Linked DNA regions of Homo sapiens. The protein of the gene in region 1 purifies or fractionates together with the protein of each later gene. This does not show direct contact. Each region holds a gene or a part of one and is shown on either strand. Other genes may lie near its edges. The genes, in order: NVL and PNPT1.

Region 1 (3,822 bases):
CTGTCTCTACTAAAAATACAAAAAGTTAGCCAGGCGTCATGGCGGGCGCCTGTAGTCCCAGCTACTTAGGAGGCTGAGGCAGGAGAATGACGTGAACCCGGCAGGCGGAGCTTGCAGTGCGCTGAGATCGTGCCACTGCACTCCATCCTGGGTGACAGAGCGAGACTCCGTCTCAAAAAAAAAAAATTTTTTTTTAAGAGTTGGAATATTGCTACATCACCCAGGCTAGAGTGCAGTCACTTTTCACAGGCTTGATCACAGAACACTATAGCCTTGAAACCCTGAGCTCAAGTGGTCCTTCTGCCTCTCAAGTAGCTGGGGCTACAGGTGTGTCCCAGTGTGCTTGGCTGAATTACACTTTGTTATGACTGTCAAAGCAGCTCTGTAGTTATATTTAATTTAGTGAATCATCAGCTGTCAGATGAAGACAACTATATAGAAGACTCAGTGAGAAATAAAAGGCAAATATCAGTGTCCTTAATCAAGGAGCTCACAATTCAGTGAGAAAGACAGAGATAAGTGAATCACTCATACAAGGCAGATTATTCCAACTGATAATAGCTGCAAATGCAGTGTCTTGGGAATGTGAGGACAAGATTAAATCTAACTGAAAGAGGGCCGTGCAGGGCGGCTCACGCCTGTAATCCCAGCACTTTGGGAGGCTGAGGTGGGCAGATCACCTGAGGTCAGGAGTTCGATACCAGCCTGGCCAACATGGCAAAACCCCATCTCTACTGATAATATAAAAATTAGCTGGGCATGGTGGTGGGCTACTTGGGAGGCTGAGGCAGGAGAATTGTTTGAACCTAGGAGGTGGAGGTTGCAGTGAGCTGAGATCGCGCTGTTGCACTCCAGCCTGGGTGACAAGACTGAAACTCTGTCTCAAAACAAAAACAAAAACAAACTCTAACTGAAAGAATCTGGAAAAGAAGCGGCATTCAAATGTTAAGATTTCTTTTTTCTTTTTTTTTTTTTCCCCATATGGGATGCTTCACAAATTTCCATGTCATCCTTGCACAGGGGCCATGCTAATCTTTGTATCATTCCAATTTTAGTATATGTGCTGCCAAGGCCAGCACCAAATGTTAAGATTTAAACTGAGCTTTAAGGGAATGAGGAGAAGGACTTTCACAATAGACAGCATCTTTGAGCAAAGAGATTGGGAATAGTTAACAGAGGTGAAAGTGCTAGGGCAGGAATGAATTTTCTTTACAATGCCCCTCTTTAAAAAGTAAAACAATTATTGGCATAGAATTTTAAGCATGGCATATTTAAATTTATTTTCTTTCCAGGATTCAAAAGATTCTTCTCTTTTGGAGAGTGATATGAAACGGAAAGGCAAGCTAAAGAATAAAGGAAGCAAAAGGAAGAAAGAAGATCTTCAGGAAGTAGATGGAGAAATTGAAGCTGTCCTGCAAAAGAAAGGTAAGGTGTGAGTCTTGTTGGTGGCAGTGGTCATGTTTGCAGTGAGAGAAGCATCATTCTGTCCCAAGCTATTTTGCTTGAGGGACCTTCTATGTGCAGAAATGTTTACCAGGAAATATTTCTATATTTAATGGACCTTTGTTTACTTAAAGACTATTCATTATAATTATGAGTTACTACTGAATCATTAATCTTTTCATCTCCTCATTTTTGTTTACCAGCTAAAGCCAGGGGGTTAGAATTCCAGATCTCCAACGTGAAGTTTGAAGATGTGGGAGGCAATGATATGACATTAAAAGTTAGTGCAAATTCTGAATTTTACCTCAAATGGATATATTACTAATCAGTTATGAGGAAAAAGCCTACCTCTTTGTTTCTAATATGATCTGGGTGTAGAAAAGGAAACTGGGAAGGTTGAGAAGGGCAAACCTGACCTGTACCCTTTAGGGCATTGCAGGAGAAAAGATGCATACTATTTTGAACTTTTCTATTATTTTAATTATAGTATATATAAGATCCATGCTTTATAAGTAATATTGTCTTAGCAATACTAATAGTAATGGTAACTTTATTTTTATTTATTTTTTATTTTATTTTATTTATTTATTTTGAGAAGGAGTGTAGCTCTGTCACCAGGCTGGAGTGCAGTGGCGCGATCTTGGCTCACTGCAACCTCCGCCTCCCAGGTTCAAGAGATTCTTCTGCCTCAGCCACCCGAGTAGTTGGGTTTACAGGCATGTGCCACCACGCCCAGCTAATTTTTGTATTTTTAGTAGAGACAGGGCTTCACCATGTTGGCCAGGATGGTCTTGATCTCCTGACTTCGTGATCTGCCCACCTCAGCCTCCCAAAGTGCTGGGATTACAGGCGTGAGCCACCATGCCTGGCCGTAATGGTAACTTTATTTTTAATGCCTACTCTTTTTCATCTGCCATGCTAGTTAACTTTGCATTACATCCTCAAGGTATATAATGTTACAGCTTAGGAAATAGCTCCTCAGAGAGGTTATTGCTGAAATCACACAGTAGGTACCAGAGCCAGGATTCAAAGTCTGATCTAAGTCTAAGGTGTATATTCTACCTATCTACTCCATTTCACTGCTCCGAAAAATAGGACATTTCATTCTACTTTGATTGTTCTGTCTTGAAAGACATCTTTGTGCTTATCCTCTGCTAGGAGGTCTGCAAGATGCTCATACACATGCGTCACCCGGAGGTGTACCACCACCTGGGCGTCGTGCCCCCTCGTGGAGTTCTCCTTCATGGACCACCAGGCTGTGGGAAGACATTACTTGCACATGCAATTGCTGGGGTGAGGCTTGCTGACATTTGTTTGCTTTTGCTGTTTTTGTTGTTATTATTTGTTTTTGTTTTTTCTCTTTGGTCAACTTAAACCAGACATGGCATTCTTCAGGAAGAGAACATAGTCATTGGAACTGATCCCTTTGTTATCATGCTGGTATTATTTGTGGAATTTATTCATTTAGTTTATTTATTGTTTCTCACGAGCAACTTGAGGGATTTTTTTTTTTAATGTATGTAATTGTTTATATGGCAAGAGTTAGATAAAAAGTAAAATAATACAGTTTTTTTTTTTTTGGAGACAGAGTCTCACTCTGTCACCCAGGCTGGAATGCAGTGTCGTGATCTTGGCTTACTGCAACCTCCGCCTCCCGGGTTCAAGCAATTCTCCTGCCTCAGCCTCCCCAGTAGCTGGGACTACAGGCATACGCCACCACGCCCGGCTGATTTTTTGTATTATAGTAGAGACGGGGTTTCACCCTCTTGCCCAGGCTGGTCTTGAGCTCCTGAGGTCAGGCAGTCCACTTGCCTCAGCCTCCCAAAGTGCTAGGATTACAGGTGTGAGTCATCGCACCCGGCCATAATAATACGGTTTTAAACAAACCTTTTTATTAACACATAGCTTACATTTTAGTTACTTTGCTTTCCCTTTAACCCAATAGTTATTTCAGTTTACTTATTTTTTTGAGACAGAGTTTCACTGTCACCCAGGCTGGAGTGCAATGGTGCAATCATGGCTCACTACAGCCTCAACTTCCCAGGCTCAAGTGGTCCTCCCACCTCAGCCTCCCGAGTAACTGGAAACACAGACACATACCACCACGCCCAGCTTATGTTTTTGTTTTTTTGTAGAGACGAAGCCCACTATGTTGCCTGGCTGGTCTTAAACTCCTGGCCTCAAGCAGTCCTCCTGTCTCAGTCTTCCAAAGTGCTGGGATTACAGGCATGGGCCACTGCACCTGCCCTCCCAGTGGTTCTAAGGAGCAGTAAAATAAGAAAACTAGGGTTATATTATTTTTCATATAGCTAAATTTATTCAAAATTTTTATTTAGAGTCATGTTCTTATACTTTTTAGTTTTAAAATAATTCTTTCTA
Region 2 (3,822 bases), on another chromosome or scaffold:
CTAAAGCAGAATCTACCTGTGTATCATAGAAGTAGCCAGCTGGAAAGAGCGGTCTAATTGAACGATCTGCCAAAAGAAAAAAAAACACATTAAACCGTACTGACAGAGTTGCTTTACAGTTCAAAACGTTTGAACTAATATAGATAGCCATTCAATATGTTTTCAAGAAAAATCCCCTTGGACTGATTTACTAAGAGGGACACAGATAAATGTCAGTGCTTCCATTATTACATACCATGCCCTAACAACAAAAAACAAACACAGAAGAAGCACATTAACAATAAAGATTGGGGAGCAATTTTTCATTCTGGTTCCACAGGCAACAGTTACATATATAAGCAGAGCAAAGAGACTTAAGACCAATAGCAGACCAAAAGAAAATGCTTCCTTGCTACTTTGTGTCTGAAGACTGTATATAAATATACATAAAATAGCAATTTCTGGCCGAGCACAGTGGTTCACGCCTGCAATCCCAGCACTTGGGAGGCTGAGGCGGGTGGATCACGAGGTCAGGAGTTCAAGACCAGCCTGACCAAAATGGAGAAACCCCATCTTGACTAAAAATACAAAAATCAGCCAGGCATGGTGGTGGGCACCTGTAATCCCAATCACTTGAACCCGGGAGGTAGAGGTTGCAGTGAGCCGAGATCGTGCCACTGCACTCCAGCCTGGGTGACAGAGCAAGACTCTGTCTCAAAAAAAAGCAATTTCTGGGTAGAAGAGCTATAAATTACATATGATCCCACAATATGTAGGGATGTTAAAGATTTGAAAGATTATGGACATATTTCAGTAGCTGATGAACATAATGTTTAGGAATTACTATTCTGAACATGAAAAAATGTACTAGGAATAGATTCAACAAAGTAGAGGCATGGGCCAAAAAATTCATATGCTCAATAGAGATTTACTCATTTAGTCAACAAATATTTATTGAATGCCTATTCTGTGCTAAGCAGTATAACAGGTACTAGGGATTCAACCCTGAAGAAATAAAAGTTTTTTCTTTCACAGTGCCCACATTTGAGTGAGGGAAGAGAAGGAGTGAATAATCTTAGGTGGTGTTAATGCTATGAAGGAAAACTTAAGACTTATTGTAGAACACAGATGCAAGAGAAGAGATGCTAACATAGGCATACCAGAGAAGATGAACGCCTCTATGTTAATATCTTACCTATTATTCGACTTGTTAGAATTTCTTTATCAGAAGTACCAATCTCTCTTCTCAGATAGTTTGTGGGAATTCTACCTGCTGCAGCAGCTTTTTGTCTGTAGTCAACCTGAAGCAGCAATAAAAAAAAGTTCATATAATTCTTTTTGCAGAAACAAACTATACTGTATGAATGCTAATTCTCCTGAGGTTGCTAACAACACAGTCTAGACTCAGAGTAGAAAATGTTATTTACTTAGCATTTTGTATCTTTTGGGGAGAGGAAAGTTGATAGAAATGTTTCTGCAAAGTGATTTTAAAAAACGTTCAGGTGCAGTGGCTCACGCCTGTAATCCCAGCACTTTGGGAGGCCAAAGCAGGAGGACCACTTGAGGCCAGGGTTTTAGAACTGCCTGGGTAACACAGAAAGACCTTGTCTCTACCCCCAACAAAAAAAAAATTAGTTGGGCACAATGGCCTGTGCCCATAGTCCTAGCTACTCAGAAGGCTGAGGTGGGAGGATTGCTTAAGCCCAGGAGTTTGAGGCTGCAGTGAACTATGATCACACCACTGAACAACTCTAGCCTGGGTGACAGAGCAAGACCCTGTCTCTTAAAAAAAAAAAAGTCTTCTACTCAACAGTAAAAGTGGAAGAAGACTCACTATTTGCCACAGATGCTCATTCTGATCAAGTCAAACATTGCTTTTTTTTGGTATCAACTCTGTTAAATATAATTGTACACCCCTTTTCATAATAGAAGGGAGCTATAAAATTCTCATGAGCTCATTACTAAATATACACAGTTGTCTCTTGGTATCCCTGGGGGATTGGTTCTAGGACCTCTTGCAGATATCAAAATCCATGGATGCTCAAATCCTTGATGTAAAACACCATAGTATTTGTTTATAACTTACGTATATCCTCTCATATACTTTAAATCATCTCTAGATTACATATAATCCTTAATACAATGTAAATTCTACATAAATAGTTTTTATACCGTATTGCGTAGGGAATGACAAGAAAAAAAGTCTGTACATATTCAGTACAGATGCAATTTTTCCCCCAATATTTTCGATCCATGGTTGGTTGAATCCATGGATGCAAAACCCAAGGACATGGAGGGCTGACTGTACTTGCAGAGTCATACTGAAGGGAAACTATGAGGGCAATGAATTCATTGCTTATTCAATGTCAAAGTACTCATGCACTTCCAATCTTCTTGTCAACTTACGCACCTGGACGTTCCAAATTCTAAAGTATGCTTAATCCTAGTATTTGTTTATGAAGCAGTTTATACTCTTTTAATGAATCAGTATCAAAAAACTAGGAAAAATTCTTTGTTGTGCAAGTTTGTATTTTCCACTCACTAGACACTGGACAAAAATATTATACATTCTACACTTTACTCAGACCATATTACAGTTCAGATAAATCAGCAAATACTTACCACCAAAGGCATAAACTGGGAAGGGGAAGGTTTTGTTTTACTGACCGCTGTGACCATTACTGCAGTGTCACCTGACTTAAACATAAAGAACAACGCTGGTAAGTTCCTTTGAAATCAGATATTAGCATCTAAGTAGCAACTGAATAAATCCTTACTCCAATTAAACTCAAGAAAAGATATCTAATTCTACGACACGATTATGAAATAAAAAATATTCACAAGTAGTCCAATCTTGATCTCTGAGCTTTTCAAAAGCTATGGAATCAAAATAAGGAAAGATTAACAGGTAATTTAGTCATATTCAATGAATTGAATAGTATTCTCTACTTCTTATGTGGCTATACATAAGGAAAAATTCCCCAATTATTACTATAGAAGAAAATACCAAAATCACTTTCTCTAGAAAAGCACAACAGAATTTATTAACGCATAAAACAGAAGCCCAAGTTTGGAAAGGATGTTAAACGTCACTTAATACGGCTGGGCACGGTCGCTCACACTTGTAATTGCAGCACTTTGCGGGGGCAAGGCAGGTGGATCACGAGGTCAAGAGATTGAGACCAGGCCAGGCGCGGTGGCTCACGTCTGTAATCCCAGCACTTTGGGAGGCTGAGGCAGGCGGATCACGAGGTCAGGAGATCAACACCATCCTGGCTAACACGGTGAAACCTCGACTCTACTAAAAATACAAAAAATTAGCTGGGCGTGGTGGCAGGTGCCTGTGGTCCCAGCTACTAAGGAGGCTGAGGCAGGAGAATGGCGTGAACCTGGGAGGCGGAGGTTGCAGTGAACCGAGATCGCGCCGCTGCACTCCAGCCTGGGCAACAGAGTGAGACTCCATCTCAAAAAAAAAAAAAAAAAAGAGATCGAGACCATCCTGGCCAACATGGTGAAACCCCGTCTCTACTAAAAATACAAAAATTAGCTGGGTGTGGTGGTGCACGCCTGTAGTCCCAGCTACTCGGGAGGCTGAGGCAAAAGAATCGCTTGAACCCAGGAGGCAGAGGTTGCAGTGTGCCAAAATCGCACCACTGCACTCCGGCCTGGAGATGGAGCAAGAGTCCACCTCAAAAAAAAAAATAGGTCACTTAATACATGCAGTGCTCTGGACTCTGGTTGTCTGGAATGATTCTTGCAGTAGAAATTATCTTAGTAGTATCTGAATTAATTTCCAGTACCAAAATTCTAAGTAGTTACACGATGTTGTAGTTACACATTTAG

The links.
Region 2: the proteins of NVL (region 1) and PNPT1 purify together in Homo sapiens (affinity purification with mass spectrometry; one large-scale study listed by BioGRID and IntAct). This does not show direct contact.

The regions. Positions count from the first base shown.
Region 1 is NC_000001.11:224,302,637-224,306,458, reverse strand, and holds part of NVL (nuclear valosin-containing protein-like), read left to right. Parts: intron 1-1,292; coding exon 1,293-1,425; intron 1,426-1,646; coding exon 1,647-1,723; intron 1,724-2,601; coding exon 2,602-2,736; intron 2,737-3,822. UniProt on the Homo sapiens protein: Participates in the assembly of the telomerase holoenzyme and effecting of telomerase activity via its interaction with TERT. Involved in both early and late stages of the pre-rRNA processing pathways.
Region 2 is NC_000002.12:55,683,769-55,687,590, forward strand, and holds part of PNPT1 (polyribonucleotide nucleotidyltransferase 1, mitochondrial precursor), read right to left. Parts: intron 2,677-3,822; coding exon 2,602-2,676; intron 1,281-2,601; coding exon 1,175-1,280; intron 67-1,174; coding exon 17-66; intron 1-16. UniProt on the Homo sapiens protein: RNA-binding protein implicated in numerous RNA metabolic processes. Catalyzes the phosphorolysis of single-stranded polyribonucleotides processively in the 3'-to-5' direction. Mitochondrial intermembrane factor with RNA-processing exoribonulease activity.